Linked DNA regions of Homo sapiens. The protein of the gene in region 2 purifies or fractionates together with the protein of the main gene of each other region. This does not show direct contact. Each region holds a gene or a part of one and is shown on either strand. Other genes may lie near its edges. The genes, in order: TOR1AIP2, ABHD18 and MGAT5B.

Region 1 (10,011 bases), on a different chromosome or scaffold from region 2:
CTTAGATTTCTCTAATTTTTAACCTAATGGTACTTCTATAACTAGTTGGTCAAGAAATGAGCTGCATTACATAATGTTCCATCACTGCATAGAAATAAACTGGTAAAGTTATGCCAAATGTTCATATAAAATTTACTATTAAATTGGTTATTCAAAAATAAATTTTTAAAATAAAACAAATAAATTGGTTATTAAAATCTGTTCTGCTGAAAGAGTCTACAAACTCTTACCCTAGACAAGTATAAAATTCCATGCAGAGGGGACAGAAATGACGATTAACAGAAATGAACAAAAGCATCAGAGACATGCTAGTAAATGCTAGCTTATACATTCTGCTGTTCATGTATAGATCTTTATCCTTCATAAATAATGTATCTATACAATAAACCTGTATTTCATCTTCCTACTCATAAGATTTAATACATTCATTTTTTAAACATATTTCCTATCTTCTAAGATGTTTTTTCACTTAATCAATGGTTTTCAAACTCGAATATCAGTGAAACTCTTTGTTCCAATGAAATCTCATAGAGAACCCCAACATATAAAACAGTTAAAAGCAGAACTGCTCTGATACAAAGGGGAAGGGTGCCAGTAGACACAGTTTGAAAATCAATGCTGTAAATTGTTCAAGAAAAGCTGAAGTAAAGATATAGCCAATTGGAATTTCTTCATTTCCAATGATTATAAACAATTTCCCCACTGGTTCTCATTTTTAAGAACATTTGAGTACAGCTGCTTATACCTCAGCTGAATGAAATAAAAGCACAGTGCCTTACATGTAGTATTTAGGTAGGTACTTAATGGTTTGAATTCTTATTTCTTTTATCATACTACTCAAAACTGCAAAATTAATATAAGATATAATCCCGTAACTTTAGATTATTAAAGTAAGGTTTGAAAATATTCAACATGTGATAGAAAAATTTTCTAAAGGTTATCATTGCTTCATAATTCTAATTGCTTTAGTCCAAGTCCAAACATTATCGAAAAGGTTCTTCAGAGTCTCACTCAAGAAAAAAAAAAAATCACTCTGTAGTTACTCTAAGAAGTAAGAGTATCTTCCTGTGCAATGTTGCTATATTTTAGAATTTAAAAAAAATTCTCATATATATCATCGATATTTCAAACCTGATTTGGTCCAAAGAAAAAAAGTCAGGTTAATTTTTAGCTTTGTCAAGGCTTAGATTAGAAAGATTTTACAAGGAATAAAAAATAAAAACTTGTTTCTAAAATAAGCTCATCTTTGTTTTTCAGGCTATTTCCTCAAGCTATTTTATCAACCTCCTTCCATATAAATGGAAGGTCTTTAAACAAACTTTTTCATAAACATATACCTTCTGTAACCAACTCTGTGCTTAGCTTTAGAAAAGGCACCCCTGTTCTTCTATGCTACTCACTGGCTGGACTGGCAGTACCAGGTGTGAAATTCGGCTCCACAGCCCACTCAATTTGTCTGAGTCCATGTGGTTGAAGGAGGTGGGAGTGTCAGAGTTGGTAAACTTGGCCCAGAGTAAGTCTCTCACTTTTTCTTCCGTTTCCCTTGGGCCTACACTTGCTTCTAATGTTTCCTCCTCTAGCAGAACAGTCAGGACCAGGGCCACATCTTTAAAGGCAGCATTCTCATGATCACAATACTTATAGAAGATCAAAGTGGAGCCGGCAGGGAAGGATTCGAAGTGGTGTACCACAGCAGCCTTCTGGCCATTCTCAAACCCATAGCTCAGCTCCAGGTCAACCAACAGCTTGACCGTGTCACTGTCCTGCCAGGTCCTTCCAGCCCCATCAATCTGAATGGGAGAGACTTTCTGGGAAGAGGTGTAGGCATCTGCAACATGGTGGCTCAGGCACTTCAGGGTCTCTCTTCCCTCCCGAGCTGCTGTAAATATGATGGTGGCTGGCTCAGTGGGGTTGGAAGCATTGAGGTGCTTCTGGAGAAACTTCCGTCCTCTCTGCCACAGGAAGGAACTCTGGCCTGGAAATTTATCTTCCAATTGGCTAAACTGGGCCAAAAAGGCCTCCAAAGCTGGATTTTTGGGCACTTGCTGGGCTGGAGAGGAATAGTAGCTATTCACAGAACTTGCCACAACAGCCACAACCAGGACGACAAGAATCACAGGGCCTGTCAAAAGAATGAAAAAGGAATAGAAAATTACAGAGAACACGAGCCAGAAACAAAGCCTGTGGTAAACTGAAATGAGGCAGAGATACCAGCAGGTTTTACTAGGAGCAATAAGTTTCTTTTGCATAAATTGTTTAAACTTTCAATCCACCAGAAGTACCTTTTCTCTAATCTCTTCTCAGATTTAATTATTTGAAGATATATCTGTTAAAAGATAAAAGCTACGTGGAAGAGTTAAGTACTCGGTAAAAAATTTTTAAAAATAAAAGGTAAAAGCTGAGTCTATGTATTTGTTATTATAACTAATGATGTAATTTAGACATGAGTGATCAAGATTTTTTTTCATCTTCTCAATGCACCTACTACCTATAGCCGACCATTTTTTTAGGAGTCATAACTTTAAAGTGCACTTGAAAAATTAATATTCTCTAATTAGAAAGGCAGTTTTTGTTTCTTGTTTAGGAAAAGCCTTTCCTATTGTGAGAAATTCCATTTTGTTAAGCACAGCAAAATATCAGCCAGCACCCGTAAGGGAAAAATCCCTAAAACTCTAGTGTACTATTTTACTATGTCTCACTACCAATCATTAAATAAGTATATATAAACACAATGTTAAAACTGTTTAAATCTGCTAGTTTTCTAGGCATTTTCACTGAGGATTTCTGAAAGTGAATCAACACTGCAGTAAAACCAGGTTTGTTCTCACCATAGCTCCAAAAACCCTTTTTATTAATCTGTCTCATGGTGTCCTGTGCATTCTCTTTAATTTCTTCCAATTTTTGTGTTTGTTGTGGATGACTTCCAGCCTCTGGAGAGGAAAAGAATCAATATTATTTTTAGGCAGTACACTAATGACAGTATGTATACCTTTATATCTCTCACCAAACCAAAGAATGATTTGACTAAAAGGCTTTCTATACCTTGGCCAGGTACGGTGGCTCATGCCTGTAATCCCAGCACTTTGGGAGGCTGAAACAGGTGGCTCACTTGGGGTCAGGAGTTTGAGACCAGCATGGCCAACAAGGTGAAACCCTGTCTCTACTAAAAATACAAAAATTATCGGGCATGATGGCGGGCGCCTGTAATCCCAGCTACGTGGGAGGCTGAGGCAGGAGAATCGCTTGAACCTGGGAGGTGGAGGTTGCAGTGAGCCGACATCGTGCCACTGCACTCCAGCCTGGGGGACAGAGCAAGACTCCATCTCAGAAAAAAAAAAAAAAAAAACCAAAGTTAACATTTTTCCTGTCTTTTCTTTAAGACTATTACTTTTATTCTACTTAGAAGGATAAAATGAAATACTGTGAAATTCATTCAAGGATAATGTTGCTATATTCACAATTCCTTACTGCCTCTTATATCAAAGACAAAGACATTTAAATAGTGCGGCCAAACTTACCTAAAATGTAATTCAGCAAAATGTATAAAATCAAGAAGGGATTTAAGAAATGTTGGCTGTACACAAGATTCAACTTCACAGGGTAATTGTGCTCTAATTCCAGTGTTCGAGTTTCACATGGTTCCTCAAGACCCCGAATATAAAAATAACAGAGGCACTAAGTTCTAAGATAGGAGAGATTAGTGTACAGTTGCAAAATAGCTTACAGAAGCAAATTTGAAACTCTTAGTGAAGGAGATATACAAAGCAAGGAATATAAGGTGAAGAAAATTCACGAAATATGTAAAAATCCAGATGTAGGGAGGGCATGCCAAGCTTAAAATATGTGGGTGAAAAGAAGGGCAACAATTTTTAGCACTCTAAGCTAAATCACACTAGAATCTAAATTTGTGCTTAACCCCAGCCAGGTACTTCTATTAGCATAGATGAGTAGGATCATCTTCACTTATAAAGGATTGTTCCTATCACCCCAAAGAGTAGGTTCTTAAAATATCATATCATAGAATCTAAGAACTGAAAGGATCTATAATGGACACCTACTCCGGCCCCATTACTTAACCTATCATGAAAAAAGGTCCAGGGATATTAAAGATCTTGCCCAAGGTCACATAAAGAGATGTAGCTGGCTGGGCGCAGTGGCTCACGCCTGTAATCCCAGCACTTTGGGAGGCCGAGGCGGGCGGATCACAAGGTCAGGAGATCGAGACCATCCTGGCTAATACGGTGAAATCCCGTCTCTACTAAAAATACAAAAAAAAAAAATTAGTTGGGCACGGTGGCGGGTGCCTGTAGTCCCAGCTACTCGGGAGGCTGAGGCAGGAGAATGGCGTGAATCCGGGAGGCGGAGCTTGCAGTGAGCCGAGACAGCGCCACTGCAGTCCGGCCTGGGCAAAAGAGTGAGACTCCATCTCAAAAAAACAAAAAAAAAGAGATATAGCTAAGTTGAGATGAAAACAAAGTTTCTCATCTCTTAGAGTATAGATAACCTCATTCAACTATATTAAATTGCTTTCCATACATAAACTGCATTTTTTTTTTTAAAGACAGGGTCTCACTCTGTCAACAAGGCTGGAGTGTAGTGCTGAAATTTCGGCTCACCACAGCTTCAACCTCCTGGGCTCAAGCAATCCTCCCACCTCAGCCTCCTGAGGACTATAGGTGCATGCAGCTGTTTTTGTGTTTTCTGTAGAGATGGGTTTTTGCCATGTTGCCCAGGCTGGTCTTCCTGGCCTCAAGTGATCCACCAGCCTTGGCCTCCCAAAGTGCTAGGATCACAGGAGTGAGCCACCACCCTTGGCCTAAACTAGATTTTTTTAAACAATATTTTTTCTACTCACAGTGAACCTGCCTAACAGTGAATTTTTTTTTAAGAGATGGGATCTCACTAGATTGCCCAGGCTAGCTAGAATGCAGTGGCTATTCACAGGGGTGATCATAGCACACTGCAGGCTTGAACTCCTGGGCTCAAGCAATCCTCCCAACTCAGCTTCCCAAGTAACTGGGACTAGAGGTGTAAGTAATTGCACCTAGTTTATAACAGTGAAATTCTGACGCAGGTCATGGTCCTTACAGATCACATTCATTCATTTGACAAAATTCATAAAGGTGTTTCTATGTGCCAGGTGCCAGAGATACACAATGAATGAGAGGACACAGTCCTTGCCTTCACTGAAGTTACAGATTATTCTAATGATTAATAAATAAAACATATATTTGAGATTAGTCATTGATTTGCAGTGAAACATGAATTACTAGCCCTTGCTGAAGTCCCTGATGAACAGAACATCTTATATTTTATATTCTTTTGCACTGGCAAATGGGCATTTCAGACTGAGCTCTTCAGAGTGCTTATAAAATACAAACCCACACAGACAATCACAGAAGGTGAAAGTTAGAAGAATGTTTGGATATCATCTTGTCCAACTTCTTCATTTTACAAACAGGAAATTGAAGCACCAGGAAGGGAAGATTTTCCCAAGGTCTCCCAAGTCAGCAAGTGGTAGGGCCACAACTAGAATTCACACCTCCAGTTCCAGTTAAGGATTTAGCACACTGCAACGCTTAGCTTCATAAGGGAAGACATGCTTGTTCCTCTTAACATATAGGCAGAAAAAACCACGTATAGAGAAACTAACTGTCTTACTCAAAGTCCTATAAAACTGAAACATGACTGAGTTAAGGATACTGTCCCATTAATGCTCATTTTTAAATATACCCATCTCTTGATTTATGTAACATTTAGTTTCCCAAAAAGTAAAAGATTTTAAAAATTGTAAGTCGAAATATTCTCATAAGAAATAAAAAACCAGAAGCGAATTTTTTAAAAGTCATGCCCCTTTTTGTCATATCACATTAATATAAACAGTTAATAAAAACATGCTTAGAAATGCAGTTTATGTGTAGGAAGCAACTTAATATAGTGGAATGAGCTAGCCTAGATGAGAAACCTCATTCTAAAATCAACTCAGTCATGGCTTGGTGTGAGCTTGGGCAAGGCCCAAAGGCCTTACTCCTATGAAAGATGACAAAAGTTCTCTGGAAAGAAGGCCTCTGACTTCTGCTGTGTTCTCAGTTAACAGAGCAGTACAAAACAGGAGAGTAGTTCAGGGGGTTCTCTTACCTGGGGCCAGCAGTCGCCTCCTCAGTGTATCCTCACCCTCTTGCCCTGCACTGGAATGACCAGGACTCTGGGCCTCCTGGGAGTCTGTAGTAGGTGGTTCCTGAGATGCTCCAGTTCCGTCACTCGCTTCCTTAGGGAGGGCCACAGAGCTGCTCCCTAAGTGTGCATCTGCTCTTCCTACCTTGTCACTTGGAGAATGGCTGGGATCTGGATCCAAGGGTTCTTTACCCAGATTTTCTGAAGGGAGGTGATGCCCTTTTCCGCCATCCAGAAAACTCTGCTTGTTCTCATCTTCTGTTTTATCCTTTGGATGTTTCCCCACATTTGCTTCATCTGGACTTTCTGATTTATCACCTGTATCTGCACTTTCTGGACCTTCTGTCTCTACCTCTTGGTGGTCTTTGCTAAGACCACAGGCAGAGTGTAGGATCTCAGCTTCTTCAGCATTACTTGCTATGATTGTGGTCTCCTGCGCCTGAGAATTTACTGATGGATCATTTTCCAAATCCTTTTGAGAGTCTATTGAGATAAAAGTTTATAATTTTTATTGGAAAAAATTCCCCATAAATTTATATTTTAACAAGGTCCCTGTTTAATAATAATATTTACATAGATTTTCATGGTTTACAAGACACTTCCTAAACATTATTTCTCTTGGCTCCCACTAAAGGCAATTAAAACAACAACAAAAAAAATCTTATCATGTTAATAAATATAAAATGACACTAATATAAAACAAATTATATGACAGAACAAACTTTTGGCTATATTAAATATATCCTCTTCCCTAATGAAAGGCAATGCTCATCAATGGTAGCAAAACCTTATGCAAAAGGCTGATAGGGACTTTTATAGTGGATGAGCCAGACTGACAACTGCTGAACCCAGCGACCAATCTTCACATCATGAAAACAGGGAAACCCAAACAGATATCATTTACTTTCTAATACAATGCAGTAAGAAGTACTCTAGACCACTTGGGAAGTATTTTTGCCAAACAACTAAACTTAAATCTGGTAAGTTTCTAGAGCAACCAGTTTCCAAGAAATATAGGGATACAGGAATACATTAAATTATGCCTCAAGAATATAATCAGCAAAACCCAGCACGTGGGAAATTCCAAAAGACTTTGTTTCTTTAATAAAAGTAAGAATGGCCAGATGTGGTGGCTCATGCATGTAATCCCAGCACTTTGGGAGGCCAAGGCAGGTGAATCACCTGAGGTCAGGAGTTCAAGACCAGCCTGGCAACATGGTGAAACCCCGTCTCTACTAAAAATACAAAAATTCACTGGGTGTGGTGGCAGGCGCCTGTAATCTCAGCTATTCTGGAGGCTGAAGCATGAGAATCACTCGAGCCCGGGAGGCGGAGGTTGCAGTGAGCTGAGATCACGCCACTGCACTCCAGCCTGGGTAACATAAAAAAAAAAAAAAGGAGAAGAAGAGGAAGAAGAAAGATACCTTCTAAATATAGCACATCACAGGATATATATAACTCTAAAGATTTGTCTACCATCATTTTTTAAAGAAGCATTGTATTTTTCCATTACTATAAGTCCTTACTATTGGAGTCTCTAAAACATTTATCTTCCTTATATTATAATTAGGGTCTCGCATTATAGTAAAATTCAGTAAATTTGAAAGAATAAGTATAATCAAAACAAATGAACCCACTGAATTAGCTTTTTTACTTCAAAACCTCAGATTTTAGTCATCAGAGATTTTCTCTCTCTGCACACCCCTGGTTTCCTACAGCAGCAACCTCAGTGCCAGACAAATCAGTCTTACCCTCTTGAGGTTCCCTAAGTCCACTGTCGGCCATGTTTGTGTTCTATCTCTTCAGAGTTGGGAGGATACTTTTTTTAGTACTTGGTTTTCCTTGTGAAGATGTCTTGTTTTCTTCTTGTCCCAAGTCCCAACAGACTCATGCTTCCCATGGACCCAGGAAATAAGGCATATATACAGTGACTAAAACAAAATGAAAAAAAATTAAATGACTTTTTATCCATACAAGGGAGAAATGCAAGTATCAGCTTTATTTATTAAATATGTGTAGCTTGAGTACTATTTCCTCTGTGAAACTTTTTTCGTGAAGAAAATTTCCTTTCATGAGAATCATATTCCAAATCCTAGACTACTGAAAAAAGCTCCAGATTATTAATCTTTCATGAATTTCATAATCTAATATATTCCAGCATAGTTGAAAGAGTATAAAAAGTAAGATCAAGTGACCAGAATCTTCAACAGACTAGCTTGAATTAAAATAAAAAATAAATCTAAGAGTAGAAATTTAAGTCATTGCTGAAACAATCACTGCAGATTTCCTGGATGTCTTCAATTTCTGTCCCAGATAATTTTCTCATAGTCTGCCTATCAGGAGCTTTCACTTATATTAAAAAGTAACAATGCACAGGAGGTTCCCACAAACTGAGATGGCTGCTTTGAGGTGTACCACTACACATTTGGACTGACTTTGAAGTGGTTTTCTCGAAGTATTCTTTTGTAAAATATGGAGACAGATATTCCTTTATACAATGCCTTTTTATGCAATGCTCAAAGACAGACAAAGAAAATTATTAAGGTTTACACAAAAGGAATCAAAATCAAAGGCACTTTATAAGCAATAAAAACAGTCATATTTTATAGTTCTTTTTTTTGTCAAAAACAAATTGATCAATAAAGTTACTTAATATTTATTCCCTATGAAAATGAGAATAATGATATCTATGAGGCTTAAATACAAAAATATATAAGAAAAACCTGTGTGAAGTGTTATAGTTTTTTGACAGCCTAGCTGGAAGGCTAGCCAACTGGCCGTCTTTATGTTTTTCTCAGTACTCTTTTGTAAAATTTAAATTTACACATTAAAAACTTTGATCCCCAATGCCTACACGGTGCCTAGTGTATAGTAAGAACTCCATATTTTAACTTAAAAGCTTATGAAAAAATAAATGAATGTATAAATAAAGAGTGATGCCATAGATAAATTGGAAGGGAAGAGAAGAGTTAGGGACAGATTTTCTTTCTGCCACTGTGAACACTTAGCGAAGTGTTCAGAGGGTTCCTTGTCAGCTCTTTTATCTTCTTCAAGCTCCTGGGATTGGGCTTTCAAGCCATCATATGTTGGAATGAAGTTTTCTCTCCTATCCTAGCTCATGACAGAAAATAAAAAGTCCCCAGTCCTTTTTAAGTTTTGTTAAAAAAATTTTTCCTGCCAGCCAAAACCAAGAAAATAGGCTAAAAGTTTCCTATGTACCAATAACAAAAATTTTCAAAAGGAATGATGCTACTCACAATAACCTTAAGGAACCTAGAATAAAAACTAAAAGATACCTAGTAATAAATCCAACAAGAGATATGTAAGATCTTTAGACAGTGGTGAATTTTATGGTATGTAAATTATACCTCAATAAAGCTGTTTCTTTAAAACACAACTTTAGAGAGAAAAATATAGACCTTTATTGAAGTCTATAAAAAAGAGATAAGTAAACAGAAAAAAAAATATCATGCATAGACAAATAAGACTCAAAACCATTGATGCCAATTTTCTCCAAATTAATCTACAAATTTAATGCAATTTGAAACAAAATCTCAAGTTTTTTGATTATTGTTGGTTTCTAGTGAAATGGAAAAGTGGGTCCTAAAATTCACAAAGAGCAGCAAAGGATCAAGAAGAGTCAGCATAATTCTAAAGAAGGGGGGCAATCTTTACCAGATATCAAAACTTCTTTAAACTTAAAAATAGGGTGGGCACGGTGGCTCATGCCTGTAATCCCTGCACTTTGGGAGGCTGAGGCGGGCAGATCACCCAAGGGTCAGGAGTTCGAGACCAGCCTGACCAACATGCTGAAACCCCATCTCTACTAAAAATACA
Region 2 (10,011 bases):
GGCAGGCAGATTGCTTTAGCCCAGGAGTTTGAAACAAGCCTGGGCAACATTGTGAAATCCCATCTCTACAAAAAATACAAAAATTAGCCAGGTGTGGTGGTGCATACCTATAATCCCAGCTACTCAGGAGGCTGAGGTAGAAGGTGACAGAGCCAGACCCTACCTCAACAAAATAAAAAGAAAAAGATAAAAAAAGTTCATATTTTTATTGGTTTGCACATGGACCAAAAATTCCCTGAAACACTAAACAATATAGGTTGTTATTTGTTGATGGGGATTGGACCTAAGCACAGATGGGGTAGGAATCTTTTCACTATATGTATCTATTTATACTTTTTGATGCTTGAATTATATGACCATACATTTTTTTTTTAAGTTAAAGAATTAAAATTGGTTGGCCGGGCGCAGTGGCTCACGCCTGTAATACCAGCACTTTGGAAGGCCGAGGTGGGAGGATCACCTCAGGCCAGGAGTTCGAGACCAGCCCGACCAACATGGAGAAACCCCGTCTATACTAAAAATACGAAATTAGCCGGGCGTGGTGGCACATGCCTGTAATCCCAGCTACTCGGGAGGCTGAGGCAGGAGAATCGCTTGAACTCAGGAGGCGGAGGCTGCGGCGAGCCAAGATTGTGCCTCTGCACTCCAACCTGGGCAAAAGAGTGAAACTCCATCTCAAAAAAAAAAAAAATTAAAATTGGTTGAAGGCAAGGAAAACAAAAATACCGAACAACCTGGTTACCACAACAAATCACTATAAGAGGAAGGAAGTTTAGTAACATATGGAAATGTAAAGATCAAAGGGTCCCCGAATTACTCAGAGTGGGACATCAATAAATTGAACTTTTTTTTTGACTGGGAAAATACAAAGAGTAGGGAAAACATCTTAACATTTATTGAATATTCGTTATTGTGAACTGGTTCTAAGTGAGATGAGAAGTGCCAAATAAGACTACCGCTATGGTTTAAATATGTCCCCCAAAGTTCATGTGTTGGAAACTTAATCCCCAATGTAATAGTGTTGAAAGGTGGGACCTTTAATTAGGCCATGAAGGTTCTGCTCTCATAAATGGACTAATGCCCTTACTGTGGGAGTGGGTTAGTTACCGGGAATGGATTCCTGATAAAAGAATGAGTTCAGCCTCTTCCCTCCCTCTATCTCTTTTGCACACACACACATTCTCTCTTGCCCTTATGCCTTCTGCCATGAAATAATGCAGCAAGAAGGCACTCACCAGATGTGGGCCCCTCAACCTTGGACTTTCTAGCCTCCAGAACTGTGAGCCACATATATCTCTGGTCTTATAAATTTCCCAGTCTCAGATATTCTGTTACAGCAACACAAAATTGACTAAGACAACTACATTGCAATTTCAGATGACCAAAATTTATAAACTTCCTTTAAAACATACATGTAAGTTTCTCATAAACTTTCAAATACAGGTATTCTTCTGATTATATGTATAGGAACTAACTAGCAGGTAAAGCTTTTTTTTGTTTTTTTGAGACGGAGTCTCGCTCTGTTGCCCAGGCTGGCGTGCAGTGGCGTGATCTTGGCTTACTGCAAGCTCTGCCTTCTGGGTTCACGCCATTCTCCTGCCTCAGCCTCCCGAGTAGCTGGGACTGCAGGCGCCTGCCTGCCACCACGCCCGGCTAATTTTTTGTATTTTTAGTAGAGATGGGGTTTCACCGTATTGGCCAATATGGTCTCGATCTCCTGACCTCGTGATCTGCCCTCCTCGGCCTCCCAAAGTGCTGGGATTACAGGGTGAGCCATTGCGCCCAGCCTTTTTTTTTTTTTTAAGAGAAATGGTCTTGCTCTGTCACCTGGGCTGGAGTGCAATGACACAATCATAGCTCACTGCTACAGCCTTGAACTCCTGGGATCAAGTGATCTGCCCACCTCAGCCTCCTGAGTAGCTAGGACTACAGGCATGCACCACCATGCCCAGCTTTTTTTTTTTTTTTTTTTTTTTTTTTTTTTGTAGAGACAAGAGTCTCACTTTATTTCCCAGGCTGGTCTCAAACTCCTGGCTTCAAGTGATCCTCTTACCTCAGTCTTCCAAATTGCTGTGATTACAGGCATGTGCCACCACGCCTGGTCCCGATAAAGCTATTTTGTAATAAAGTTCTTAGGCAAGCAATCAACTACCTTTTGAAGTTACGTGAGATAGACCTACTTTACAAGAGTAAAGTTTACAGTGATTTAATTATAAATAAAAAGTTCTCATTCATAGTAGAAAGATTTCTTTTTTTTGAAGTTTCTTAAGAGTCTCAGTATCTTTCAAACAGTAAAAAATTTAAATTCATGAAAAGGATTGCTGGGCGCGGTGGCTCATGCCTGTAATCCCAGCACTCTGGGAGGCCGAGGCAGGTGTATCAGGAGGTCAGGAGTTTGAGACCAGCCTGACCAATATGGTGAAACCCCATCTCTACTAAAAATACAAAAATTAGCTAAGCATAGTGGCGCGTGCCTGTAGTCCCAGCTGCTCAGGAGGCTGAGGCAGGAGAATTGCTTGAATCTGGGATGCGGAGGTTGCAGTGAGCTGAGAGCTAAGATCGTGCCACTGCACTCCAGCCTGGGCGACACAGCAAGACAGAGAAAAAAAAAAAAAAAAGAAAAGGATCGGTCACTTTTGAAGAGCAGTAGGAAACCAATTCATCATCTTGAAAACTGGTAAATTACAGAAAAAAAATCAAGCATTTACCATAACTGCCTTTCTTATACAAACTGAACTACCATGTAACTAAATAATATATGAGGTAAGTGTCTCCCTATAAAAGTATTCAAATACATGAAAAAGAAATAATAGAATATCAGCAACCTTCAATGAATTGATATAGTCATTAAGCATCAGTAGAGGCTTATATCATAAAAAAAGAGATAATCAGATATTATGTGTTTCCTATATAGCCTTGTGAAAGAAATCAAAACAATGAGTTTAATCAAGCCTTTAGATCCAACTGCCAATTTTCAGGCAACGTAGAGCAATATGCTGAACTGTACCATGAGAATGCAATCAGAAAAATCTAGATTGTGAGAAACCCTACAGGTCAAATAACCTAAATTCTTCATGAAATAAATTATAAGGAAAATAAAGGGATGGAAGGCAAGTTATCTTTTTTCTTTTTTACAGATTGATTGATTGATTTTTTATTATTACACTTTAAGTTCCAGGGTACATGTGCACAACGTGCAGGTTTGATACATAGGTATACATGTGCCATGTTGGCTTGCTGCACCTATCAACTTGCCATTTATATTAGGTATATCTCCTAATGCTATCCTTCCCCTAGCCCGCCACCCCTCAACAGGCCCCGGTGTGTGATGTTCCCCGCCCTGTGTCCAAGTGTTCTCATTGTTCAATTCCCACCTATGAGTGAGAACATGCGGTGTTTGGTTTTCTATCGGAAGGCAACTTATTAAAGGTACTTCAAATAAAAGAACTATAGGGTCTACAGATACACATTTGGATAATAAAATTATTTTAAAGGCAGAAGGAGTAATTACTATAAACATAAGGATAACGATTACTAATAATGCAGGGAGGAAGGCCTTGTGATTAGGACACATTTGAAGGGGTTTCTGGGTTGGGTGGTCAAGTTTTATTTTTGACCTAGGTACTAGTTACAGTGTGTTTGCCTTTTAATAAATGTAGTAAACCACATATTTGCTTTGCATGATTCTCTGTATCTGTGTTTTATTTTAAAAGAATTTTTATTTATTTATTTTTAAGACAGAGTCTCACTCTGTCGCCCAGGCTGCAGTGCAGTGGCACAATCTTGGTTCACTGCAACCTCTGCCTCCTAAGTTCAAGAGATTCTCCTGCCTCAGCCTCCTGAATAGCTGGGATTACAGGCACCTACCACCACACGTGGCTAATTTTTGTATTTTTAGTAGTGATGGGGTTGGCCAGGCTAGTCTCAAACTCCTGACCTCAAGTGATCAACCCACTTCAGCATCCCAAGGTGCTGGGGTTACAGGTGTGACCCACCATGCCCAGACAAAAATGAAAAATCTTTTAAAGTAAAAAATAGTATGTACAGCTATGTTTTTAAAAATTTGCTATTCTCTTTAAAAACCTGAATCATTAAATATACAATCAACTCCCCCCACCACCAATGTTGGGTGGAAAGTGAAATACTTACTCCACAGTATTCAAGCATGTGAATAATTTCTTCTTCATAAACTGTCTGGGTATAATATTGCTTTTCCAGCTCCCTCCAATTAATTGATTTACTCAACACACCCTGAAATAATAAGCTAAATTAAGATCAAACCACATCATAAGGCAATTTGCCCAATACTTTTATTATTATTACTGTGTGAGACTACCTTTTTTTTTTTTTTTTGCAGACGAAGTCTCACTCTGTTGCCCAGGCTGGAGTGCAATGGCACTATCTCGGCTCACTGCAACCTCCACCTTCTGGGTTCAAGCAATTCTCCTGCCTCCGCCTCCCAAGTAGCTGAGACTACAGGCATGTGCCACCACGCCCAGCTAATTTTTGTATTTTTAGTAGAGACAGAGTTTCACCATGTTGGCCAGGCTGGTCTTGAACTCCTGACCTCAGGTGGTTCACCAGCCTCAGCCTCCCAAAGTGCTGGGATTACAGGCGTGAGCCACCGCACCTGGCCTAAGACTTCCTATCTTTAGCCTGCTTGTAAGGTTGGCCCTTAACTGGAGTCTGGGAACTTGACCAGTAAACAGCTTTCTATACTTATATAAAACTTTTCCTAAATGATAAGAGTGGGTCACTGTACCTAAACTGCTTATATAAACAATGCGGTTTCTGCTGAACACCTGCTTTCCTTCTGAATTTTTGGTGCATGCTAGGCAGAAGTTATCTAAGTCACTAACCCCTGATAAAAACTCTGGACTGCAAGGCTCAGGGGAGCTTCACTGATGGACAGCACTTTGCACTTATTGTCAATAATTATTGTTGGAAGAATTAAGCATGAACTGTAACACTCCACTAGGAGAGGACTCTTGGAAGCTTGTTCTTGGTTTCCTTTGGACTCTACCTCATGCGCTTTTTCCTTCTGTTGACTGTGTTGTATCTTTTGCTGTAGTTAAGGCTTAATCATGATTACGACTATATCCTGAGTCCTATAATTCTTTCTTTGAATCACCAAAGCTGAGGGTGGTTTTGGGGACCCCCCCAAAACAATTACCTCTAATTATATATAGCTACCTAATATTAATTACAATTAAATTACCGTAGTGAAGACCCCAGATGCTGTGGACCAAGACAGGCATGGAATCAATGGCATGGGCTTAGGCCAGTTGGATACCGCTAAGGAAGCCATCTGTAATATAACAGATAGAGAGCGTCTATTTAGAGTTTCTATTCATTAAAATAAAAATATTTAATATTAATAAGCATTCCGTGCAGTAAATAGTTGGTCAGATAAACACAAAGTCTGCAAACATTCGTGAGAATGTCTAGCCACCTCATTAAATTCCCCAAATCATAAATTCAACATTTAATTTCCCCCTTAGATAGCAATAAAATGTAATACAAAACTTTAACCTCAAGACCATTCGCTGAGAGCTACTTTCTACTGTGTAAATATGGAGCAAAGATGCTGAGATGTAGATGCTGGGCAGCAGGGTAAACACACTCATTACTTAAGTGACTTGCCAGATAGAGCAAAATCACAACTATAAAACATCAGACCATTGAGGTTGACTGAGTATGCCAAGAATTTGGTGAACTACAAAGCAGATTATATAATAGATCTAAAATAATGTAATGTGTGTGATTAGAGAAGGTAAAATCACTCTCCCTTTTGGAGAAGGGAAAACTTTATCTTTTCAAAAAGTTACTTTCCCTTCTGGGCTGGAGGAATCAGAAGGGAAAGGCAGGCTTCATGAAATGGATGAGTCTTCTAGAGGAATGAAAGATAGGGTCTTGTCTTCCAGAGAAAGAATCAGTATGATCAAAGGCAAGACTGTGAGAATGCACAGGGTCTCATAGGGAAACAGCCAATATACTTCAGTTGGGATGGTCAATAGGCACACATGGCCAATGGAGTGAGGGAGGTAAGTAGGGCTAGAAAGATTGATCAAGATCAGATTAGAGGTCCTTTGTTCTATAGATAATCGGGAATTAATAAAGAGGTCTGAGCAAAGGAGTAGTATTGTCAAAGAAGTGATTCAAAGAAGGTAACATGATAGTAGTTTACAGGATTGAATAGAGAAGGGGAGAACTGAGGTAGGAGACCAGTTAATAGGCAGTAATCCAGGTGAAAGTTATAAGGACCTGACCTAGGTGATAACAATGGAAACACTACTAGGTAGGAAAATAAATCCTTTTCCATCTTTTGTTTCACTGTCAGGTAGTTGTTTTGAATTTTTTTTTTTTTTTTTTTTGAGATGTAGTCTCACTCTGTTGCTCACGCTAGAGTGCAGTGGTGCGATCTCAGCTCACTGCAACCTCCGCTTCCTGGGTTCAGGCGATTCTCCTGCCTCAGCCTCCTGAGTAGCTGGGATTACAGGCACGTGCCACCACACCCGGCTAGTTTTTGTATTTTTAGTAGAGACGGGGTTTCACCATGTTGGTCAGGCTGGTCTTGAACTCCTGACCTCAGGTGATCTGCCCGCCTCGGCCTCCCAAAGTGCTGGGATTACAGGTGTGAACCACCGTGCCCAGCATAGTTTTGAATTTGAGTAAGTTTTTGAGCTTAATTTTCTAATTCAAGAGGCATACAGAAACTTCATATAATAATAATTATTACTTTGAGATAGAATCTCGCTTCTGTCTGGGTCACCTAATCAGGAGTGCAGTGGTATGATCACAGCTCACTGCAGTCTCAAATTCTGGGGCTCAAGTGATCCTCCCACCTCAACCTCCCATGTAGCCACAACTACAGAGATGTGCCACCATGCCTGGCTAATTTTTTAAACAATTTTTTTTGTAGAGACAGGGTGGGTCTTACTACTATGTTGCCTAGGTTGGGGTATTATTATTTTTTAGGCCAGGTGCAGTGGCCCACACCTATAATCCCAGCACTTTGGGAGGCCAAACTGTGTGGATCACTTGAGCCCACACACAAACAAAATACTAATAATTTTTTAAAAATGTACTGAGTGACTAATATGTGCCAAGTAATAAACCAGAGCATATTCCTGGCCCTCAATATCTCAAATGCTTCATGGAGAAAACAGACTGCTAAACAAGTCAGTAAAGTACAGTAAAAAGTTACTAATCAGAGTTTGAAGTATAGTCTGGAGGTAAGGCTGGGTGTCACAGCTGAAACAGAAGGGTAAGCTGTTACTCCTAGGTGAAAGAGAATAAGGGAGCACTAGAGAGATGCTAGCACGTGACACAGCTGGAGCCCAGTGTGCACGCAAGCTTTTGGCAGGTTTTGAACAAGACAGAACAAAGACTAGATTTAGAAAGATCACTGTAGTTAGGGTGTGGAGGAGAAATGGTTAAGACAAAGATTAATAAGAGAAAAGACTAGAGACAGAGAAAGCAATTAGGAATCCATTTTAGTACACTCTAAAAGGCAGACAAAAAGTAAAATAGGTTAGTGGTACTAGGGAGACAGATAAATGGAAAGTATTTTCCAATTCAGCTATCTTCACCAATGTAACAGCAAAATTGGGCATTTATACTTGAGACTTGAAAAGTTAAATTTTATAATTAATTTCTGTTAAATCTAATATCTGAGATACAACTGTGGAGTAGTACAATCAATAAATCGTACAAAAAATTAACATCATTACTTCATAATTGGAGTAAGAGTTTGGAATCTGTTTCTGCTTCCTACTTTTACTAAAACTAATTCTATACCTAAAGTGAATTTTTAAAATAACCAGGTTCTCTAGATCTTACAAACATAAACATAATTAAATGTAAGCAGAAATAAAAAGGCTTACGTGTCCTCCCATGGATATTCCAGTCATTCCTAAAGGGCCGTAACCTTCCCTCTCTAGCCAGTGCAAGAGAGCTGCAGATTCTAAAACAAGAGCTCCTCCCATCACAAAAAGGTCGGACACATTTTTTAAGCTGGACCTTCTAGCCTCACAAAACAAAATAGAAAATGATTATTTTATGTATTTACATGCTAATATATGCAAATTTACAACAGGCTGCCAGACTTCATGCATCTCTTCTAAAGGACCAGATAGTTAAGTAAAACAATGTAATAAATTGGAATTAGGGCCAGGCGTGATGGCTTACGCCTGTAATCCCAGCACTTTGGGAGGCTGAGGCAGGGGGATCGCTTGAGGTCAGGAGTTCAAGACAAGCCTGGGCAACATGGTGAAACCTTGTCTTTACTAAAAATACAAAAATTAGCAGGGCATGGTGGCGCATGCCTGTGATCTCAGCTACGTGGAAAACTGAGGCATGAAAATCGCTTGAACCTGGGAGGCAGAGGCTGCAGTGAGCTGAGACTGCACCACTGTACTCCAGCCTGGGCAACAGAATGAGACCCTGTCTCAAAAAGAGAAAAAAAAAATAGAATTACACAGCTGCTAACATTGGATTACATATCAAATCACCTAAAACTTAACAAAAAAAAGTGTTCCTGTTCTATAGCACATAATCTTTACTGAAATTATTATAACAGAATTTAAAGCATAACTTTTTATTTTTCTTTGAGACGGAGTCTTGCTCTGTTGCCCAGGCTAGAGTTGCAGTGGCATGGATCTTGGCTCACTGCTGCCTCCACCTCCAGGGTTCAAGCGATTCTCCTGTCTCAGTCTCCTGAGTAGGTGGAATTACAGGCGTGAGCCACCACGCCTGGCTAATTTTTGTATTTTTAGCAGAGACGGGGTTTCACCATGTTGGCCAGACTGGTCTTGAACTCCTGAGCTCAAGTGATCTGCCTGCCTTAGCCTCCCAAAGTGCTGGGATTACAGGCGTGAGCCACCACGCCCAGTCTTAAAGCATAACTTTTAAAAAAGGCAATATAAATAAAGAATTTAACCAAACACTAGGCTCATGTATTACTGAAATCTCAAATATGTTGCTTATTTTCACAAAATACATAATTTATGAATATAATAAAATATAAAACAAATACATTTTTATAAATATACATGTTTTAAATAAAGACCAACTGGAATTTCATTTTTAGAAGCTAATTTTACACAGAAGTATATTTCCTTATAAAAAGTATTTAAGCTGGGCACAGTGGCTCACGCCTGTAATCCCAATACTTTGGGAGGCCAAGGTGGGCAGATCATGAGGTCAGGAGTTAGAGACCAGCCTGACCAATAGGATAAAACCCTGTCTCTACTAAAAATACAAAAATTAGCTGGGCGTGGTGGCACGCGCCTGTAATCTCAGCTACTCAGGAGGCTGAGGCAGGAGAATCACTTGAGCCCGGGAGGTGGAGGTTGCAGTGAGCCAGAGATTGCGCCACTGCACTCCAGCCTGGGTGACAGAGTGAGGCTCCATCTCAAAAAAAAAAAAAAAAAAAAGTATTTAAATATATCTTTTTGGGTCCTAGAACCATCCGTATATAGTGATCAAAATAAATATATATTATTACTAAAATGACCAAATTAGAATCTACTTTTCAAAATGTAACTTGTATTAAGACACATGTAACTGGTTATTGAATGAAACCTTGCCAAAGTATACAAAAATTCATTTTACCAATGATTATTTATCATATGCCTACACATAATATGTGCAAAGAACCAGGTGCCAGAAGGAATGCCAAGTGTGAAAAACAAAATCTTGGCTCCCAAAGAGCTTACTTCCACTGTCCTACCAAGTCCTCTCAGAGCTCTAAGTCCAGAAGGGAGGGTTTCTTTTTATGGAAACTATGCTATCCTTCGTCCAAACAGATCATAGTCATGCTTCATCAGAAAAAAAAAAATTATTCTTATCTTTGTTTCCTATCCTCAAGTCATTTTTCTATTTATGATTACACAATTTCCCCAACTTTTTCTTTTAGCCTTGTATGGGAGCCTTGAATTCTCAGGTCCCCCAGATTGCTCTTTTAGTAGAAGTTACTGATATGAAATTCTGGGACAGTAGTTATTTATA
Region 3 (10,279 bases), on a different chromosome or scaffold from region 2:
TAATGTGCTGTGTGCTGCTGCAGTCGGAGCACATTAAATGGGGATTTCAAACATGGTAAATGGCTTGTTTCTCTTCTCCCTCTACACACCCCAGGCCCCGTCTATGAGCTCTAAAAACAACCTTGAAGCCTTCAGAAGGTAGGAGTGGCAGTCGAGCCTCTGATGCCCAGTGAGGCTCCAGCGGGACCAGTGAGGGGGTCCAGGGGTCCCTAGGAAGCAGCCCAGCCTTCCCACCCCCAGAGTGCACCTAGGACTGTTGACTTTCCTCGCTGGGGCAGGCAGGTGTCTGGGCAGCTTGGCCTGAGGCTTGAGGGTGGTGGGGTAGTTCAGGGAAGCTGGACTTGCCAGGTGGGTGGGCTGGTGGGCTCACTGCTCTGCCCTCCAGTGACACGCGCAGGGGGCCCAGATGGTAGGCCTTCCGGTGGATTTTATTGGTCTTGCACAATGTTCTAAAAATACTGAGCCTACATTTTAAAATTATGCGACTTCACAGGAGAAGCCCAGATTTCTGGCTTCTCTTGAAATAACTGGGCCCACAGTCACACAATGCAATGGTGACGTGTCCCCTTCGGGGGCTGCAGCCCTTGACGGTCTTTAGCCACACTGGTCATTTGAACTAGGTCCCCGTAGTGGGTTAAACAGTTTCTTCCCCAATCCATGTCTTCCCAGAACCTCAGACTCTGACCTTATTGGGAAATAGAGTCTTTGCAGATTTAACTAGTTAAGATGAGGTCCTGTAGGATTAGGGTGGGCCCTAAATCAATGAGTAGTGTCCTTACCAGAGGAGGGATTTTCAGGCACACAGAGATACGCCCAGAGAAGGCCAGATGGAGATAAGGCAGAGACTAGAGTGAGGTAGCTACAAGCCAAGGGCTGCCTGGGGCTACCAGGAGCTGGGAGAAAAGCCTGGGGTGGTTTATCTCTCAGAGCCTGGAAGAAATGGACCGTATCAACACCTTGATTTCAGACTTCTGGACTTCAGGAAGCTGAGGCAGGAGGATCGCTTGAGCCCAGGAGATCGAGGCCGCAGTGAGCTATGAGTGCACCACCGCACTCCAGCCTGTGTGACAGTGCGATGCCCTTTCTTATAAAATAACAAATAGATAAACAAGGACTGGCATCAGGTGTCCCTGTTTCCAAACCCCATCCCTTTTCACTGTTTCTTGAGGCTATCAACAGACCCACAACCAGCCAAATGCAGAGCAGGAGGCACATTCGCCCAGGTGCCCTAAATATAGCACTTCCAGCCCCTCCCCTTGAGCAGGGTGAATGTGAAGAAATAAATTCCAGTTGCCTTAAACCACGCAGGTTGTTGTGGTTTGTTGCGATTGCCTGGGAAACACCCCACTCCCCTTCCCTTGTTTTCTGGCCCACCCTGTCAGTATTTTGAGTTTGGACCTCTGAATGGCAGGACTTACCTCACTGCACCCTTCCCGAGTCCTCTGCCTGTTTGGACACAGGCCTCCACTGCCTGGCCAGGGAATTCTGCTGACTGTGGGCTTCTTCTGACCCCTCCAGCCAGGCCAGCAGGACCCAGGGGCAGGGGGAGGGGCTGGAAATGCTTTTTTTTATTATTGTTGTTGTTTTTTGAGACGGAGTCTTGCACCGTTGCCTGGGCTGGAGTGCAGTGGCACAATCTCGGCTCACTGCAACCTCTGCCTCCCAGGTTCAAGCGATTCTCCTGCCTCAGCCTCCTGAGTAGCTGGGATTATTGTATTAGTAGAGACGGGGTTTCACCATGTTGGTCAGGCTAGTCTCGAACTCCTGACCTCATGATCTGCCCACCTCGGCCTCCTAAAGTGCTGGGATTATAGGCGTGAGCCACCGCACCTGGCTTTTTTTTTTTTTTTTTTTTTTTTTGAGACGGAGTCTTGCACTGTGGTCCAGGCTAGAGTGCAGTGGTGTGATCTCAGCTCACTGCAGCCTCCATCTCCCAGGTTCAAGCGATTCTCCTGCCTCAGTCTCCTGAGTAGCTGGGATTACAGTCACCCGCCACCAGACCCAACTAATTTTTTGTATTTTTAGTAGAGACGGGGTTTCACTATGTTAGCCAGGCTGGTCTCGAATGCCTGACCTTGTGATCCACTCGCCTTGGCCTCCCAAAGTGGTGAGATTACAGGCATGAGCCACCGCGCCCTGCCAGGAACTGCTATATTTAGGGCACCCGGGTGAATGTGCATCCTGCTCTGCATTTGGCTGGTTGTGGGTCTGTTGATAGCTTCAGGAGAGAAACAGTGAAGAGGGATGGGGTTTGGAAATGGGTACACCTGATGTCAGTCCTTATTTATTTATTATTTTATAAGAGACAGGGCGTCGCACTGTCACACAGGCTGGAGTGCGGTGGTGCGCTCATAGCTTACTGCGGCCTCGATCTCCTGGGCTCAAGTGATCCTCCTGCCTCAGCTTCCTGCGTAGCTGGGACTACAGGTGCATGACACCACACCTGGATAAGTTTTAAAGTTTTTGGTAGAGATGGGGTCTCACTATGTTGCTCAGGCTGGTTGTCTCAAGCTCTTGGCTTAGGCATTCCTTCTGCCTTAGACTCCCAAAGTGCTGGGATTACGGGCGTGAGTCACGGCGCCTGGCCCACCGTCAGTCCTTGGCCGGGCCCTGCAGCAGGTGCCGCCGTTCCTACTCCCCTGTTCTCTGGCTTGCTTCCAGAGACTTTCCTTTCTCCTCAGGAGGCCACAAGTATTTGTCTAGAACAGTGCTTCCCCACCTTGCCTGTGTCGGCATAACCTGTGGCATCAATGCACCAGCGTGCCCAGGCTGCACCTCAGGTACTGGATCAGAATAAGGACAATTTTGCTAAATTCTGCAGGTGATTCTGCTGGAATCTGGGCTGAGAACCACCAGTCGATGAGGCAGGATCTTGGGATCTTGGTGTGGGTCCCCCAGAAACAGATGCTCAGAATAGGATTCTGCAAGTGGTTTATTTGGATGGTGACCCCAGGAACATTGACCGGGGAGTGGAATGAGACAGGAGGGAAGGGAGTGAACACAGGGGCATCACAGGGCTGGCTACACCACGGGTGACTGGAGCTCAAACTTGCTGGGAACCTGGGGAGCCACGGGGTAACACGCCGCGGAGTATCCCCCTTAGGAAGAGGGAGTGGGGGTGTCTATCCACTGCTTGAGGGCTGCTGCCAGGGTGTTGATCCTTTGTCCAGGGTCCTTTCTTCTTGCCCTTTTGTGTTCTAGCATATTCCCACAGCCATTAAAAAAAAGTCCTCAGGCAGAGAGTTGAAGGTGTTCTCAGTCATCTGCCTCTTAGCTTGCAGAGGTGACTGCAGTGGGAACCAGGACTGGGCACAAACAGCATCTGTTCCTGACGGACAGTAACAACCATCAGAACCACCATGCTTGAAAGGCTCAGGAGGTCCTGGCAACGGGCTACTTACCTGCATTAAGCGGCTCAATCCTCAGAACAGCTCTATGAAGCAGGTTATAAGGAGCCCCACTTATAGTTGAGGAAACTGAGGCATGAAGAGGTTATACCCAAGACTGCATGATGTGGGATTCACAGTTTTTCTCCTAATGCCTACAGCACAGTGGAGAGCAAGCAGGACTGTTTACACTGAACTTTACTGCAGACAAGAGGCCAAAAAAAGGGGACAGACTTCAAAAGGGACAGGCAGCTGGACAATCTGGCTTGCAAAATGCCACTGGCTGGCCCAGCATAGTGGCTCATGCCTGTAATACCAGCACTTTGGGAGGCCGAGGCAAGCGGATCACTTGAGGTCAGGAGTTTGAGAGCAGCCTGGCCAACATGGCGAAACCTGTCTCTACTAAAAATACAAAAATTTTGCATTTTTATAGGCATTTATTACAGGTATCGTGGCACGTGCCTGTAATCCCAGCTACTCAAGAGGCTGAGGCAGAAGAATCTCTTGAACCCAAAAGGCGGAGTTTGCAGTGAGCCGAGATTGCGCCACTGTACTCCAGCCTGGGAAACAGAGCGAGACTCCATCTCAAAAAAAAAAAAAAAAAAAAAAAAAAGTCACTGGCTGTCCTCTGCTTGCTTCCCTCCCTGGCCCAAGCCAGCCGTCAAATGGCAGAGAGGCTTTCCCGCTCCAACTTCAAAGTCCAGATCTAAGGGTGTGTGGCCCAGGGGAAGAGGGGAGTACCTTCCCCTACCTTCTAAATTCTGGCTTCTGTGGAGGGTAGGCCACCTCCCCAGATGACCCACACCAGAGGTGGCCATGCCTTCTAGGGAACCCCATCTCCACCACTGAGGAAGAGGCTTCCCCTTTGGCCTAAAATGGCAACCAGATATAAATGCCACCCCCTAAGCCTACTCAATCAGAAGAACCCCCAATCAGAAGAGAGACACCTAATCAGAAGGACCATTTCATTCCTTAGTGTAGATATGGCTTATTGCCAGGATTTGTGGCAGATGTAGGCACCCAGGCATGAGATGTGATTTACAGGCCTGGCAGAGACCTCTGCCCTCCAACATCTCCTTAGCCAGCCTGCCACGATGCCCAAATTTCCGGCCACCATTCATCACTCTTCTGCACAAAGGCACGGTCAGCATGTCCTTGTTCAATGCAAATTTGTTACCTAGCCTGTGTAACACATTATATCTGCTAACACCAATTTATCACCCATTTTCACATTAGCAGAGAGCAAGGCAGTGAGATAATGGAACTCAGCACCGGTAAATTTTGATGAAGAAGGAGCAGCAAAGCAGAGAGCGTGAGTCATGGCCAGTGAGTAATGGCCCAGGAAGGGGGCCGGGAGGTGGGCAGGGCAGGCAGCAAGGGGCCTGGGTATGGGGGATTGGAGGGGACCAGGCCCAGCTGGAGGAAAATAAAGTCTCCTCCTCGCATAAGCCAGGCTGCAGCATCGTGGCCTGAGCTGGGAAGACCCTCAGAGTCATTTGACACATGACTGAGGCTTTGGGCACTTCCCAGGGTGGGGTGGTCAGATATGACCTCGGGAAGTGCTTTTGAAGCCGGAGAGCTTTCTTCAGGCTGGCTCTGCGAGCTCCCAGGAGTCTCTGTCTCTGCAACTGCAAACACATCTCCAGAGCCAGGAAGTACGAGGAGGGGGAGGGGAGGACGCCTAGATGCTAAGAGACGACATGAGATCCTACATGCTTTAGGGTTGCAAGGGACCTTGGTGAGCTTCTGGTCACTATCATTTCATAATGGAGACTCTGAGACGTGCACACTTGATCGCCCACTGGCTAGTGGAGGATCTGGGGCTACAACTCAGTACGCCCCTGCGCCTGGCTCTGTGAGCGGGCCCCAGCACCACAGGCCGAGTTTATACTCAGATCAGTAAGCAAAGAGGAGCCACGGGAGTTTCTGACCAGGGAGGGGCAGAAGATAGGCATGTGTTGCCAAGCGAAATCGTGGGAAGCGGCTGATGAGGAAGCCCACGGAGGCACCTGGCAGAAGAGAAGGGTCTCCGCTGGGTGCGCATCTCTTCTGTGCTCTGCGGGAGCCAAAGCAGCTTTCGGCCCTCGGGGCTGGTGGCGCCCTGGGAAGCTGCTTGGCTCAGGGGAAGGAGCAGGGACCCCCGCCCGCCCGTCCTCGAAGCTGGTCCTCGGCGTCCCAGCCCCGCACGGCCCCGGGCAGGGCGCACAGCGGGGCTGCGGCCACGAGGTGGCGCCGGCGCGCCTTGGAAGCGCAGCTGCAGCTCCCGGGCCGCCCCAGCGCCGCTCGGCCGCCTCCTCCGAGGAACAATGCGGCGCCTCCGGGCGTAGCGTCGCGCGGGGCCGGACGCCGGACACCAGAGCGCGGGCGGCGGAGCCAGCGGGCGAGAGAGCGCGCGGCGGGCGCGGGTTGCCCTCGTCGAGAGCCATGGGCGCGGCGCGGCGCGGGGCTGAGGATCGGCGCGGCCCGGAGGCGCTGGGGACCGGGGCGCGGGCCCGGGGCCGCCTTTAGCCGGCACCGAGGGCGCGGGGCCGGGGATGAGGGCGCCCGCCGCGGGGAGCCCGTCTGCGCGCCGCGGCACCTTCCCGCCCAGCGAGCGAGCCCGAGCAGGCAGACGCGCGGCCGGCGGTCTGGGGGCGCGCCGCCTCCCGGTCCCCAAAATGTGAAGCGGGGAGGGCGGAGACGCAGAGACGGCCCGGCCGGGCGCCCTCGCCGCCCTCCGGCAGCCGCGCCGCTCCCTCCGCTGCACGCCCAGGCCTGAGCAGCGAGGCCACCGGGCCGCGCGCTCCCAGCTTCGCTCGGACGCGGCTTCGGCCCGCAGAGGGTTCGTGGCCCGGACGCGGCGAGAGCTGGGCCCAGGACGGTGCGTCCGGCCTCGCCCGCGGCTGCTCGCACCAACAAGTTTGAACAATGATCACCGTCAACCCCGATGGGAAGATAATGGTCAGAAGATGCCTGGTCACCCTGAGACCCTTTCGGTAAAGTTCCCTCCTGGTTGGTTTTTTCCCCAGGGGGGCGCCGGGTGGAGGTGGGCGAGGTCGGTTCCTGCGAACGTTCAAGTCCTGGTGGCAGAGGGGGCGGTTCACACTTCAACCCCTGGTGATGACCAGTGGGGCTGGGCTGGGGGAACGGATGGCGTTGGGGTTCGGGGTGCGGATGGGGAGGGTTGTGTTATTCGGGGACCTGTCCCGAGTTGGGCAGGGTTGGAGAGGACTCGGGGTGCAGAGGTAAGAATGGGGGCAGAAAACCCCCAGGTCGTGGTCCTGGGCCCAGAAAGTTGCCCCAGCCTGCGCGCCCCTTCCCAGCCCCTCAGGGTCCTTCCTCACCCCGCGGACGGTCCCATCCGGGTGGCAAAGTTAGTGTGCGGCGCCTTGGAGCTCCCCCTCCGGTCCCTCCCGTCCCGCCCGTCTGCCCCTAGGTCGGCTACCCCCCAACCCCTCCGCCTGTGCCACCCTCTCCCCAGCCTTTGGTGGCACTGCTCTCCTCCCCGCGGGGCTCGGGCCTGGCTCCGACGAGAGGGTCCCGAGATTAGAGCGAGGACTCGCTCATCCCAGGATTCGCCCCCGATCGCAGGCGTCGGAGAGGCGGGGGCAGGGGCGGCGCTGCAGGGCTACGGGGCGGCTGGAGCCGAGGCTGCGGCGGAGCGTGGTGGGCGGGCGGTGGCGAAGGCGACACGCTTCGGGCGGCCAACACCTGGGGGCCCAGGCCAGGCAGGGCTGGGGCCGCGCGGGACTCACTGGACCCAGCCAGGGGCCCCCAGGGCCCAGCGGTGCCGGGGCAGCCCCCTCTCCTCCCAGGCATCCGCGGAACCGGCCCGCAGCGGGGTGGGGAGGGGGCGCTGCCCAGTGGACGCCCGGCGGGGCCCGAGTGTCACCCCGTGGGTAGCTGGGCAGCGAGGAAGCTGGGGGAGTGACCGCCCCGGCGCGGGGGCCGGACTCGGGACGTGGCCACAGGTGGGCTCCGGGCGCGGGAAGGAGCCCGAGAAGGCGGAGCTTGCAGGGGCCCTGAACTCTTGCCCTCCAGGTCTCGGCCCAGCCCCACTGTGGTCCCCCTGCCGGCTCCAGACGGGGATGGGGGCGGGGAGACGGTGGCTCACCTGGAGCCCGCCTCCCAGCACACCGGGCCTGTCTGCTGGGCCGAGGAGGCAACCCCAGGGGACGGCAGGGGTCAGGCTGGACCTCTGCGGTCCGGGGGTCCGGGAGGCCCGGAGAGCTGGTGCAGGCCGTGGGTGGTGATGGGGGCGTCGGGAGCCCATGGGAAGCAGGGCGGGAAGCAGGCGTCTCTGGAAAGGGCCTTGCTCCTCCAGGGAAGGCCTTGAATCCCTGGCCTGACTGGGAACGCTGGAGGGTCCTCGCCCCTTCCGACCCCATCCCTGTCCCGCCCTCCGGGCCGCTGGGTGTTTCCTGGCGCGATTGGAAGCAGCCGCGAGACCCCAGCACCACGGACAGTGCTCGCGACCCAGGGCTGCTTCCCTGTCTGGTCCTGCCCTGGTTTTCTTTCAGGCCCTTATCTGAAGGCAGGATTGGGGGTGGAGGTGCATGGGTCCCCAAAGTTGTGTAACTTCACCCCAGGGTCTCCCTGGGCTGCCCGGAGACCCGCAGCCATCAGTGAGTCCCTTCAGTTGAGGTGGGGGGCAGGCTGCAATCATAGCACCCCAGCTTATTCATCCTCAAAGGCAGGCTGGGGTCCTGTTCCCTGTGGTTTTCCCAGGGCTGCTGGCAGGGTCTTTATTCCATAGGTGCCCCTGGAATGTTGCTTGAGTGGATACATGGATGGCTGAAGCCATTTTAACTTGAATCCACTCCAAATGGCCCCCAGCTGCCTTGGGGGACATTGAACCCCAGGATGGGGTTCTGGCAGAGGGAGATGCAGATGAGGTGTGTTAGGGGGCTTCAGGTTCTGGGCTGAAGGGGGTAGACACCTTTCTCATAGCAGGGTTGTTGGATCCTGGCAGGCAGCCCAGGTCCCCAGCTCTAAATACAACTCCTTCACTCCCCTGGCCTCTTCTCCAGGGACTAGAGACATGAGTGGGGGAAGTCCGTCCTTGTCCTCAGACTGGGAGGACAAATAGCTGATTTCCCCTGGGATCTCCCTGAGCATGGGACAGCACCTCTCCTGTGCCATGGCCGTGGCTGTTGTCTCCAGAGCCACCTGACTTCCTCTGAGGGACCCCAAGATCTGAGCCCCACCCCCAGGCTTGGTGGAATTCCGTGAGGCGTCCCTCTGCGCTAAGGAAAGTGTCCCTTGCGCGGTCTTGCCTACTGAATCATGTCTCCTGTCCTTCCTGCTGGGGGTGTGGTCTTCGAGTCTCTCCTTGGAGCTCCCAAGCCCCTCTCTGCTTTGGGGTTCTCCTCTTCTCTGCCCAAATCTCTAACAGCTTCCTTTAAATATGGGCTGGGAATTTTGTTGTGCTTTTTATTTCCTTCTGCAATTATATGTTTTCTTTAATGGACCAAATTTTAATTAAATACTGCTCTGCCAGTTTCAAATAATGAAGATTAAAATGCATAAAGCAAGTCTTGCATAAAGACACAAACAAGCATGGAACTTGAGGGCGGGGAGTGGAGGGGCAAGGCCCGGAGGTCTCTGGCATGACGTGGGGCTCTCTCCAGGGAGCCTGACTCCACACAAGATGGGGTTCCTCACCCTGATCTGGGGTTGGTGGGAGGGCGCCCCTCTCAGCTCTACCAGTTCATCAAGTCCTCTGATAGGTTCAAGTTCCCAGAAGAGCCCCAAGGCTGTGCTGGTGAGCTCAGCTTGCCTGTTTGGGGCCTAGGATTGATGAGGGAAGCAGCAGGACCCTGGGTCTGGACTTGAGGAAGGAAGGGTTCTGTGCCTTGTTCCCTGCTGTCCCCCTGGGGTTACCCCAGAGCCTGGCTCCTGCTGGATAATCAATAACTACATGTTGAAGGCAGGAACAGGAGTCCTGTTCTGACCAGCCCTCCCTCCCACCCAGTGTGACAGCACACACACCTATATGACACCCCTTGCACAGGTATGAGGACACCCTGGCCAGTCCGTGGTGCAGGCTGATGACCCTGGGCGTGCCTGCCTAGGGGAGATGTGTGTTGGGGGGAGCCTGGGCATGGGCCGTGTGGCTCTGCCCTGGACATCTTACCATCTAGTGGTGGAAGTGGAGGGGGGTGTTCAAACAAGCTCATGACTGCTGCAGCAAGGCCTCTGCACACTGCACCAAGGCTGGCCTGAGTGATTGATGGGGTCTGGCTGGCCTCAGGCCCTGCTGTGTCCATCACTGGTTCTCAAACTTTAGCATGCAGTGGAATCTTCAGGAGACTTTGCTAAAACAGCTTGCTTGCTCCACCCCAGAGTATCTGATTCAGTAATTTGGGGTCTGGGCCCGGCATTGGCATTTCTAAGGAGTCTCAGGTGATGCTGACTGCTCGTCTGGGGACTGCACTTTCAGGACTGCAGCTGTTAATGAACCAGCTCTGCCTGGAGGCTAGAGCCCGCCTGCCTCATGCCTAAGTGTGCGTCATTCTGCCTTGTGGTTTCTCGTGTGGCTCGAGGCCAGCATCTTGTAGTTGAGCTCTCTTTATCCTATAGTGGGGGGGCCCTCCTGGGTCTGGAGCTCAGCCCCCATCCTTTCATTCTCCCTTGCTTCCTTCACTCATGCACTCATTCGTAAAACATTTGTGCAGCCGGTACGTGGTGGAGCGTCAGGGCACGATGGCCCTTCCTGCCCTCCTGACCCGCCTCCTTCCTCTCCGCAGGCTTTTTGTCCTGGGCATCGGCTTCTTCACTCTCTGCTTCCTGATGACGTCTCTGGGAGGCCAGTTCTCGGCCCGGCGCCTGGGGGACTCGCCATTCACCATCCGCACAGAAGGTACCTTGGTGGGGCAAGGGGAGTGTGAGATGAGTGAGGGCGTTTGTGGGTC

What was found.
Region 1: the proteins of ABHD18 (region 2) and TOR1AIP2 purify together in Homo sapiens (affinity purification with mass spectrometry; 2 studies listed by BioGRID and IntAct, with this or other methods). This does not show direct contact.
Region 3: the proteins of ABHD18 (region 2) and MGAT5B purify together in Homo sapiens (affinity purification with mass spectrometry; 2 studies listed by BioGRID and IntAct, with this or other methods). This does not show direct contact.

What each region holds. Positions count from the first base shown.
Region 1 is NC_000001.11:179,844,707-179,854,717, forward strand, and holds part of TOR1AIP2 (torsin-1A-interacting protein 2), read right to left. Parts: intron 8,106-10,011; 5' UTR 7,960-8,105; coding exon 7,926-7,959; intron 6,658-7,925; coding exon 6,139-6,657; intron 4,169-6,138; exon of another isoform or gene 3,519-4,168; intron 2,931-3,518; coding exon 2,829-2,930; intron 2,123-2,828; coding exon 1,365-2,122; 3' UTR 1-1,364. UniProt on the Homo sapiens protein: Required for endoplasmic reticulum integrity. Regulates the distribution of TOR1A between the endoplasmic reticulum and the nuclear envelope as well as induces TOR1A, TOR1B and TOR3A ATPase activity.
Region 2 is NC_000004.12:128,015,377-128,025,387, reverse strand, and holds part of ABHD18 (protein ABHD18), read right to left. Parts: intron 8,026-10,011; coding exon 7,887-8,025; intron 5,309-7,886; coding exon 5,219-5,308; intron 4,252-5,218; coding exon 4,150-4,251; intron 1-4,149.
Region 3 is NC_000017.11:76,862,737-76,873,015, forward strand, and holds the start of MGAT5B (alpha-1,6-mannosylglycoprotein 6-beta-N-acetylglucosaminyltransferase B), read left to right. Parts: upstream 1-5,667; 5' UTR 5,668-6,293; coding exon 6,294-6,361; intron 6,362-9,910; exon of another isoform or gene 9,911-10,013; coding exon of another isoform or gene 10,014-10,114; coding exon 10,115-10,227; intron 10,228-10,279. UniProt on the Homo sapiens protein: Glycosyltransferase that acts on alpha-linked mannose of N-glycans and O-mannosyl glycans.